3 linked regions of the Homo sapiens genome follow. Changing the gene in region 2 together with the main gene of any one other region gives a genetic interaction. Each region holds a gene or a part of one and is shown on either strand. Other genes may lie near its edges. The genes, in order: NF2, MCM9 and STK11.

Region 1 (3,651 bases), on a different chromosome or scaffold from region 2:
CTGACAAGAAATGACAAGCCACATTCCCCAACTTTTCAGAAGGGCCCTTCGGGCTGCACCCATGGGGAGTAACAAGAGCACCTTCTCTGAGTACCCACCTCAGCTCAGGCTTATGCTTCACGTGGAGAAAAACAACTTAAACTCTGTTCTTTCCCTTTAAATCAGTGGTTAGAACCAGAGGAGTTTTTTGTCCCCTGCAAGAGACATGTGGCAGGTGGGGCACGGTGGCTCACGCCTATAATCCCAGCCTTTTGGGAGGCTGAGGCGGGCAGATCACCTGAGGTCAGGAGTTCAAGACCAGCCTGGCTAACATGGTGAAAACCCATTTCTACTAAAAATACAAAAAAAAAAAAGCTGGATGTGTTGGCGCGCACCTGTAATCCCAGCTACTTGGGAGGCTGAGGCAGGAGAATCGCTTGAACCCAGGAGGCGGAGGTTGCAGTGAGCCAAGATCATGCCATTGCACTCCAGCTTGGGCAACAAGAGTGAAACTCCATCTCAAAAAAAAAAAATAAAAGTACAGCTGGGCACGGTGGCTAACACCTATAATCCCAGCACTTTGGGAGGCTGAGGCGGGCAGATCACGAGGTCAGGAGTTCGAAACCAGCCTGACCAACATGGGGAAACCCCATCTCTACTAAAAATACAAAAATTAGCTGGGCATGGTGATGCATGCCTGTAATCCCAGCTGCTCAGGAGGCTGAGGCAGGAGAATTGCTTGAACCTGGGAGGTGAAGATTGCAGTAAGCTGAGATCGTGCCACTGTACACTCCAGCCTAGGCAACAGAGCGAGACTCCGTCTCAAAAAAAAAAAAAAAAAAAAGAGACATGTGGCAATGTCTGAAGATGTTTTGGATTGTTACAAATGGAGGGTGAGGTGCTGCTACTGGGATCTAGTTCCTACAGCAAAGGATGGTCAGCCCCAAATGTCAGTAGTGCCCAGGCTGAGAAGCCCTGCTATAAAGGCAACCTCGTGGTGAAAGTGGAGTTTGGCTGCACATAAGCTCAACCTAAATCTGCTTCTGCCAACACAGGTGAAAAGAAAAGGCACTGATTTTTTCAAAGCTGAAATTAAGTATTTCAAAGCAAACGCTGCTAACTCATGGTTTTCAGGAGACCAAGCTCCAGAAAAGCCAAGGAAGTCCCCAAGTAGCCTCCTGGAACCCCAGCCCCTCAGAAATCACCAGTGCTTCGTTGGCCATTGTTGCTTCTTCTTTCATCTGCAGCAGCCTCCTCTCCAACTCATCCCTCGTGCGTTCAGCCTCCTCCCTCATCTGCTTCTCTCGAGCGAGGCGCTGCCGCTCCATCTGCGAGGGGTGAAGAAAAACAGTCATTGAATCACAGGGCTCGAGACCTAGGGTGCCACAAGGGCCCAAAGATGCCCCATCTCCAGTCTCCCCTTTTGGGACCTTTTTCCTTCCCTTTCCTTTAGGTAGCCAGGGTCATTCTTATTGCCCCCCACCCCGTCCTTCTAAACCAGTTGCAGAGTTGAAAGCTGTGCCACTTGAAAAACAGTCTAGTGGTGAATGAACAAATGAACAAACAATAAAAACCTGTTGAGTCTTGACCCGGATAGAAAAAGGCATTCTTTTTTTTTGGTGGAGGGGACAGAGTTTTGCTCTGTCACCCAGGCTGGAGTGCAGTGGCGCGATCTCGGCTCACTGCAACCTCCGCCTCCCAGGTTCAATCAATTCTCCTGCCTCAGCCTCCCGAGTAGCTGGGACTATAGGCACCCGCCACCATGCCTGGCTAATTTTTGTATTTTTAGTAGAGATCAGGTTTCACCATATTGGCCAGGCTGGTCTTGAACTCCTGACCTTATGATCCACCCACCTTGGCCTCCCAAAGTGCTGGGATTACAGGCATGAGCCGCCGCGCCTGGCAGAAGGAGGCATTCTTATACACGGTGCACTGAAATGGCTACCTTGCCAATGTTGCTTTTTGTTGGGAAACCCCAGGTGGCTCTGCCCCATGGCCGATGGGATGCAATGCAGGACCTCCTCCCTCAGATAGAGCCCCAGAAATAAGCAGCTTTCTCATCTGGGCAGGCAAGCCATCTCACCATTTCTAATCCACATGGACCCCTCTCACATCTCTGATTTCATCAACAATAGCTCCACTCTTGCCTCTGACCCACAGAGAAGATGGAATCATTCTACGTGATGCATCAATAGTTCACACATTGTATTTCACAGGGGGGAGCTGCAACAGCCACAGCACAGACTTGCACAGCCTCATGTGGAGACAACTCCTGAGCCAGGCCTAGGACAGGAGGGAGCCAGGCGGGAAACACAGCCCCGTGTCCTTAAGGCAACAGCACAAAGCCACCACTACCTCCCTTGCCTTCTGGATCACTGCATTAATTGGGCCACATGCTGAGCTTAATAAGGGGAACAAGCACAAGACAGTGCCATTCCTCTGTGATCCCAGGGTACTAACTGAGTTCAAAAAGCAGAACCCAGAAGTGACCACTGCACTATTTTCTGCCTTAAATAATTAAAGCACATTTAATTACTTCTTGCTTCAATCTTATCCCACACTCTGGTCATACAAGGTTTCTAAGACTGCTGCTTTTTCTAAATCCTAAGCCAAATACACACACACACACACACACACACACACACACACAAGCTCAAAAAGATAATGCAAAGACAAGCAATAAAACAGTGAAAGTTCTTCTCCAATTTTCTCCTTGTAAGTCAATGAAAAGCTTGGCCAATTTGTTCTCTAATTTCCATCATATTACAATTTCCATAAGGTGGCTTACTACATATCTACAATTCTTTTAAAAAAAAAGAAACTAAGAAAGAAAGAAAGAAAAAGCCCAGTCAGGCCAGGCAGGCATAGCAGCTCATGCCTGTAACCCTAGCACTTTGGGGGGCTGAAGTAGGAGGAATGTTTGAGCCCAGGAGTTTGAGATCAGCCTGGGTAACATAGCAAGACCTGATCTCTACGAAACAATTAAAATTAACTAGGTGTGGTAGCATGCACTTGTAGTCCCAGCTACTTGAGGGGCTGAGGCAGAAGGATTGCTCAAGCCCAGGAGCTTGAGGTTACAGTGAGCTATGATGGCACCACTGCACTCCAGCCTCAGTGACAGAACAAGACCCTTTTATTAAAAAAAAAAGCCAGGTAATCTCCTTCAGTTCCTGGCCCTGTACTTTCCCTGAGACCTCTACCCCAATATAAAAGACCTCCTATTCACAAAAGAAGTTTACTGCATACAAAGACTGTAAGGTGTAATATACGTCCCTTCATCTGAGATGGAGAAGGTATATCATTAGTTTCACCTGATGGATGAGAAAACTAAGGTCTGGAAGGTAAGTCATTGACTTACTCACATTCTAAATTTCAGATCTGGCTCCAAGGTCAGTGTCTGTCCACCTGATCTGTGGTTGCCCAGATGCCAGGTTTGTGGCTCTGCTGTGCTGTAAGCAGTGCCGATCTGCAGTGTTCCTGCTATTCTCTGCCAGGGCCCACAGACTGCATATTCCCTGACACTTTCAGATTTCTTACTTCTAAGCTTTGCTCTGCTAAGAAAAAGGTCAAAGAAAGCTCTCCTCCTCCTTCTTATTTATTTACTTATTTATTTATTTATTTTGGTATTTTGTTTCTGCTTCTGTTTTAAAACAGGGTCTTGCTTGGTCACCC
Region 2 (3,651 bases):
TGGGACACAGCTAAAGCAGTGTTCAGAGGGAAATTTATAGCACTAAACGCCCTCAGGAGAAAGAGGGAAAGAACTAAAATTGACACCCTAACATCACAATTAAAAGAACTAGAGAAGCAAGAACAAACAAATTCAAAAGCTAGCAGAAGACAAGAAATAACTAAGATCAGAGCAGAACTGAAGGAGATAGAGACACGAAAAACCCTTCAAAAAATCAGTGAATCCAGGAGCTGGTTTTTTGAAAAGATTAACAAAATAGATAGACCGCTAGCCATACTAATGAAGCAGAAAAGAGAGAAGAATCAAATAGACACAATAAAAAAATGATAAAGGGGATACCACAACTGATCCCACAGAAATACAAACTACCATTAGAGAATACTGTAAACAACTCTATGCAGATAAGTTAGAAAATCTAGAAGAAATGGATAAATTTCTGGACACATAAACCCTCCCAAGACTAAACCAGGAAGAAGTTGAATCCCTGAATATACCAATAACAAGTTCTGAAAGTGAGGCAGTAATTAATAGCCTACCAACCAAAAAAAGTCCAGGACCAGACAGATTCACAGCCAAATTCTACCAGAGGTACAAAGAGGAGCTGGTATCATTCCTTCTGAAACTATTTCAAACAATAGAAAAAGAGGGACTCCCCACTAAGTCATTTTATGAGGCCAGCATCATCCTGATTCCAAAACCTGGCAGAGAGACAATAAAAAAAGAAAATTTCGGGCCAGTATCCCTGATGAACATTGATGTGAAAATCCTCAATAAAATACTGGCAAACTGAATACAGCAGCACATCAAAAAGCTTATCCACCATGTTCAAGTCAGCTTCATCTCTGGGATGCAAGGCTGGTTCAACATACACAAATCAACAAACGTAATCCATCACATAAACAGAACCAGTGACAAAAACCACATGATTATCTCAATAGATGCAGAAAATGCCTTCAATAAAATTCAACACCCCTTCGTGCTAAAAACTCTCAATAAGCTAGGTGTTGATGGAAAGTATCTCAAAATAATAAGAGCTATTTATGACAAACCTACAGCCAATATCATACTGAATGGGCAAAAGCTGGAAGCATTCCCCTTGAAAACTGGCACAAGACAAGGATGCCCTCTCTCACCACTCCTAGTCAACATAGTATTGGAAGTTCTGGCCAGAGCAATCAGGCAAGAGAAAGAAATAAAGGATATTCATATAGGAAGAGAGGAAGCTAAATTGTCTCTGTTTGCAGATGACATGATTGTATATTTAGAAAACCCCATCATCTCACCCCAAAACTCCTTAAGCTGATAAACAACTTCAGCAAAGTTTCAAGATACAAAATCAATGTGCACCAATCACAAGCATTTCTATACACCAATAATAGAGAGCTGAATCATCAGTGAACTTCCATTCACAATTGCTACAAAGAAAATAAAATACCTAGGAATACAACTTACATGGGATGTGAAAGACCTCTTCAAGGAGAACTACAAACCACTGCTCAAGGAAATAAGAGAGGATACAAACAAATGGAAAAACATTCCATGCTCATGGATAGGGTGAATCAATATTGTGAAAATAGCTGTACTGCTTAAAGTAATTTATAGATTCAATGCTATTCCCATCAAGCTACCGTTGACTTTCTTCACAGAACTAGGAAAAACTACTTTAAATTTCATATGGAACCAAAATAGAGCCGGTATAGCCATGATAATCCTAAGCAAAAAGAACAAAGCTGGAGGCATCACGCTACCTGACTTCAAACTATACTGCAGGCTACAGTAACCAAAACAGCATGGTGCTGGTACCAAAACAGATATATAGACCAATGAAACAGAACAGAGGCCTCAGAAATAACACCACACATCTACAACCATCTGATCTTCCACAGACCTCACAAAAATAAGCAAGGGGGAAAGGATTCCCTATTTAATAAATGATGCTGGGAAAACTGGTTAGCCATATGCAGAAAACAGAAACTGGACCTGCTCCTTACACCTTATACAAAAATTAACTCAAGTTGGATTAAAGACTTGAATTTTAAACCTAAAACCATAAAAACCCTAGAAGAAAACCTAGGCAGTACCATTCAGGACATAGGCATGGGCAAAGACTTCATGACTAAAATACCAAAAGCAATTGCAACAAAAGCTAAAATTGACAAATGGGATCTAATCAAACCAAAGAGCTTCAGCTCAGCCAAATAAACTATCATCAGAGTGAACAGGCAACTTATAGAATGTGAGAAAATTTTTACAATCTATCCATCTGACAAAGGGCTAATATCCAGAATCTACAAGGAACTTAAAAAAATATACAAGAAAAAAAGCCATCAAAACTGGGTGAAGGATATGAACAGACACTTCCCAAAAGAAGACATTCATGCAGCCAACAAACATGAAAAAAAGCTCATCATCACTGGTCATTAAAGAAATGCAAATCAAAACCACAATGAGATACCATCTTACACCAGTTAGAATGGTGATCATTAGAAAGTCAGGAAACAACAGATGGTGGCTAGGCTGTGGAGAAATAGGAATGCTTCTACGTTGTTGGTGGGAGTGTAAATTAGTTCAGCCATTGTGGAAGACAGTGTGGCGATTCCTCAAGGATCTAGAACCAGAAATACCATTTGAACCAGCAATCCCATTACTGAGTATACACCCAAAGGATTATAAATCATTCTACTGTAAAGACACATGCACACGTATGTTTATTGCAGCTCTATTTACAATAGCAAAGACTGGGAACCATCCCAAGTGCCCATCAATGATACACTGGATAAAGAAAATGTGGCACATATACACCATGGAGTACTATGCAGACATAAAAAAGGATGAGTTCATATCCTTTGCAGGGACATGGATGAAGCTGGAAACCATCATTCTCAGCAAACTAACACAGGAACAGAAAACCAAACACCACATGTTCTCACTCATAAGTGGGAATTGAACAATGAGAACACATGGACACAGGGAGGAGAATGTCACACACTGGGGCCTTTTGGGGGGTGGGGTACAAGGGGAGGGAGAGCATTAGGACAAATACCTAATGCGTGTGGGGCTTAAAACCTAAATGATGGGTTGATAGGTGCAGCAAACCACCATGGCACATGTATACCTATGTAACAAACCTGCATGTTCTGCAAATGTATCCCAGAACTTAAAGTAAAAAAAAACAAGAAAGTTGTCCTTCTGGCAATATTTCAGTTTCTAATATGCCCAAGATATTTAAAATGATTTAAAATCATTTAAAATGATTATCACTGAACAGATCTTTCATTCGTAGAAAGTAAATAGATTTTAATTCTGTATCAAATTGATAAAAGAGTAGCTGCCCAGTAAATATGTTTAAACATGCCTGGGCTTTGCAGGAAAGATTGTCACAGTTGCCTGGGGAGGTCTGCCATGAATGGGAGTACAGGAGGCGGCAGTGTGAGCACCAGTACAGAAGTATCACAGACTCTTGACTCCTGAGGAAGGTGACTGCTCAGATGCACTCAGTACCTCAACTGGGTAAAGAGATGTGAGACCTCATAATCCCCAGTCTTTCACTTTGGTTCCTTGATCTGCAAACTGACTACTAAGCAAGTTAGCCAACAACCTACTTGGTCAGCAATCAGCTACTGTGTGGGTAGCAACAGGTCTGTCTTGTAT
Region 3 (3,651 bases), on a different chromosome or scaffold from region 2:
GCCTGGGTGACAGAGCAAGACTCCATCTCAAAAAAAAAACTTGGGGTGTCAGGGGTATCCCACGACCCAGCCTTCCCCACCCCCAGCTCAGGGCTGCCTCTTGCAGGAAGCCTTGGCTCACCTTTCCCTCCCAGTGCACCAGTCCCAGGGCTCATTGCTCACTGCCCTCAGGGCAACCTCAGAAGGCCAAGGCCTGAGCTCTGCCAGGGCTGCAGGCTGTGCTGGGGCTGGGCCTGGACAAGGGGCCGCCAGTCTGGGGAGGGGCTAGGAGAGCAGGATGAAGGGAAAGCAAGGTGTGATGGGGACGGGGCACAGAGGGACACAGTCCCCCAGAAGCGGAGCCAGTGAGCAACTGGTTCCGGCCCCTGGCTGTGCCCGGTGCCCTGTCGGGCTGCCCAGCCCTGAAAGCGTCCCCCACTTCCACTGGTCACCGCAGGCCTGGTCTGCTCGCTGAGAAGCCCTGTGTTTCCGTTCTCTCTGGGCTATGTGGTGGTGGCACCAATTCCCAGCAGGGCCCGGCAAGGTTATTTATAGAACTGGCCAGGGCCTGTGTCCACAGCCTGGCAGGCACCCAGGGCATTGAGGGGGACGCTGAGGGTGAGGCTGGGCTCGGCAAAGGCCCCGGGGCCCAGCGCCTTCCTGCCTGCCAGGCTGCTCAGGAGAGCTCGGGGTGGGCCCGAGAGGCCCGGCTCAGCCCCAGATCCCCTTGTTCCCCAGGGCTCTGTGTGCCCCTAACCTCCCCCGCTGATGAAGGTCACAGGCCATTCCTGGGAGGCAAGACTTGCCTTCTATTCAGAGGAGATGCGGTGGCCGGGGGGCGGGGAAGGTGCTGTTTTCAGACAGCAGAGGCCAGATGCTCGGACGCACAGGCCCCAAGAGCCTGATGCTCCACCAGGAGGCGAAAGCACCCCCTCCCTCAGCAGGAGCCGGCTACCGGCAGGGAAGGTGGCCCAGGACACTATTCCAGCCTCCTCAGTGGAGCTGAGGGAGCCACGGGCCTTCAGGTCCAGCACCGCTCTGGCCCACCTCCTGCTGCCTGTGCAGGGACCACCCCACACCCACCCAGGCTCCAGCACAGTCCTAACCCTGAGGAGGGGCAGTGAGGCCAGGAGCTCAACCTGCATGCAGCCTCAGAGCCTCGTGGGGGCCGCTCGGGAGGCTGCACGGCCCTAAAAGCAAATGAGGGTGGAGGACTCCCTCCTGGAAACCTCCCTGCGCCGGCCACCACCTGCCGACACCATGTCTCCTCCATGAGCCATCATTCTACAGATGGGGAAACGGGCACAGGAGGACTCGCCCTCACCGAAGGCGCCCTGCCCTGCCTCCACCTCAACGGGGACACTTCACAGCAGCAGGACACACAGCAGCTGAAACGTGGAAGAGCCCAGGCACTCCTGAGCAGGTCAGCATAGACCAAGGGACACTGGGTTGTCTGTTTAATTAAAAGGGACCAAGGCATTCTGCGCAGGCACGTGCGTCCCCCGATTTATGCCAGGGGAGGAGTGGGGGTGGAGCCACCCCCGCCTGGTGGCAGTCACCTCCGGGATGATGGGTGCACATCAGCTTCTCTAGATCGCCAGGCTTCCTCTGACGTCTCCAGCCAGAAAAAGAGCAGAAGAGGAGGCCCAGCGAAACCTAAGAGCTTGGCGAGGAACAGGAAGAGCCTCCAGGAGGGGGAAGCCCGGCTCTTGGGGCATCGCCAGCCGCTCCGAGGTGCCACGTTAGGGGCCTACTGGGCTTGCCCAGGCAGCATGGACTGTTTAGCTGACTTGTTGATTAGCAGGACAGGAAATAGGAAGGAGAGTCATAAACGCCACTCAAGCTCACAGAGAGGTGGGGCTAGGAGCCTCCGTCTGCCTAGAAACAGATCATACAGGGAAGAGATGGGCCTGGCCCTCGCCCCGGCCTCCCACGGCTCAGAGCAGGACTGGGAGGCACATGGAGACCCAGGAACACCCAGCTCCAGACCCGCGTGCCCTGGTCCCTGAATCCCTCCTGATGTGGCTGAAACAAGGCCCTCAAGGATTCTAGAGGGACGCCGGCTGAGCACACGTGCACCAAAGCAGCCACAATTCACAGGCAGAGGCGGGAGCAGCCCAAGTGTCCAGCCACAGATGAGCAGTCAAACGCAGCGTGGCCCTCCACACACTGGAAAGTGACGCAGCCGTGAACAGCAGAGAGGTTCGGACCCAGGCCACGGCGCGGATGCCCCTTGAGGACAGCACACTCCGTGAGACAAGCCGGACGCAAAAGGCCACGCGGTGTGTGACACCACTCGTGTGAAATGTTCAGGACAGGCCAATCCAGAGGCAGGAAGGGAATGCGTGGGTGCCGGGACTGGGGAGGGAATGGGGAGTGATGGCTGACAGAGACGGGGTTTCCTTCTGGGGTAACAAGAATGTTCTGGAAGCTGATAGAGGTGATAGTTGTGCAACTCTGTCAATGTACTATATGCCACTGAATTACACACTTTAAAAAGGTGAACTTTGCCGGGTGCGGTGGCTCACACCTGTAACCCCAGCACTTTGGGAGGCCGAGGCAGGCAGATCACGAGGTCAGGAGATCGAGACCATCCTGGCTAACACAGTGAAACCCCATCTCTACTAAAAATACAAAAAAATTAGCCGGGCATGGTGGCAGGCGCCTGTAGTCCCAGCTATTCGGGAGGCTGAGGCAGGAGAATGGTGTGAACCCGGGAGGCAGAGCTTGCAGTGAGCCAAGATCACGCCACTGCACTCCAGCCTGGGTGACAGAGCGAGACTCCATCTCAAAAAAAAAAAAAAAAAAAAAAAAGGTGAACTTTAGGCCCAGTACTATGGCTTACACCTGTAATCCCAGCACTTTGGGAGGCCAGAGAGGATTACTTAAGGTCAGGGGTTCAAGACCAGCCTGGGCAACACAGCAAGCCCTTGTCTCTATAAAATAAAAAATAAAAAGGTGGGCCGGGCACAGTGACTCAAGCCTGTAATCCCAGGACTTTGGGAGGCCGAGGCGGGCGGATCACAAGGTCAGGAGATCGAGACCATACTGGCTAACACGGTGAAACCCCGTCTCTACTAAAAATACAAAAACAAAATTAGCCAGGCTTGGTGGCAGGCACCTGTAGTTCCAGCTTACTTGGGAGGCTGAAGCGGAGCTTGCAGTGAGCCAAGATCGTGCCACAGCACTCCAGCCTGGGGGACAGAGCGAGACTCCGTCTCAAAAATAAATAAATAAGTAAATAAAGGTGAACGTGGCGAAGCAGTGGCTCATACCTGTAATCCCAGCACTCTGGGAGGCCCAGGCAGGCGGATAGCTTGAGTCTAGGAGTTTGAGACCAGCCTGGACAACATGGCGAAACCCCATCTCTACAAAAAACTAGTCGGGTGTGGTGGTGCACATCTGCAGTCCCAGCTACCTTGGGGGCAGGAGGGTCACCTGAGCCCAGAGCTATGATTGCGCCACTGCACTCCAGCCTCGGCGATACAGTGAGACCCTGTCTCCAAAAAAAAAAAAAAAAAAAAAAAAAAAGGTGTTAAGAAAATTGAGTCCAGTTTGAGCAATACGGTGGCGTTTGTGGGATATACGGGCCGTCCAGCCGCCTCACTGATTCCCCGACAGCTACAGCAGCGCCCCAGATCCTGAGAGAGGAACCAACATTCCAGGCCTGCC

Evidence for each region.
Region 1: changes in MCM9 (region 2) and NF2 together harm fitness more than expected from each alone (negative genetic interaction), as found in Homo sapiens cells (one large-scale study listed by BioGRID).
Region 3: changes in MCM9 (region 2) and STK11 together harm fitness more than expected from each alone (negative genetic interaction), as found in Homo sapiens cells (one large-scale study listed by BioGRID).

Annotation. Positions count from the first base shown.
Region 1 is NC_000022.11:29,669,482-29,673,132, reverse strand, and holds part of NF2 (merlin), read right to left. Parts: intron 1,308-3,651; coding exon 1,185-1,307; intron 1-1,184. UniProt on the Homo sapiens protein: Probable regulator of the Hippo/SWH (Sav/Wts/Hpo) signaling pathway, a signaling pathway that plays a pivotal role in tumor suppression by restricting proliferation and promoting apoptosis.
Region 2 is NC_000006.12:118,816,652-118,820,302, reverse strand, and holds part of MCM9 (DNA helicase MCM9), read left to right. Parts: intron 1-3,651. UniProt on the Homo sapiens protein: Component of the MCM8-MCM9 complex, a complex involved in the repair of double-stranded DNA breaks (DBSs) and DNA interstrand cross-links (ICLs) by homologous recombination (HR).
Region 3 is NC_000019.10:1,212,133-1,215,783, reverse strand, and holds part of STK11 (serine/threonine-protein kinase STK11), read right to left. Parts: intron 1-3,651. UniProt on the Homo sapiens protein: Tumor suppressor serine/threonine-protein kinase that controls the activity of AMP-activated protein kinase (AMPK) family members, thereby playing a role in various processes such as cell metabolism, cell polarity, apoptosis and DNA damage response.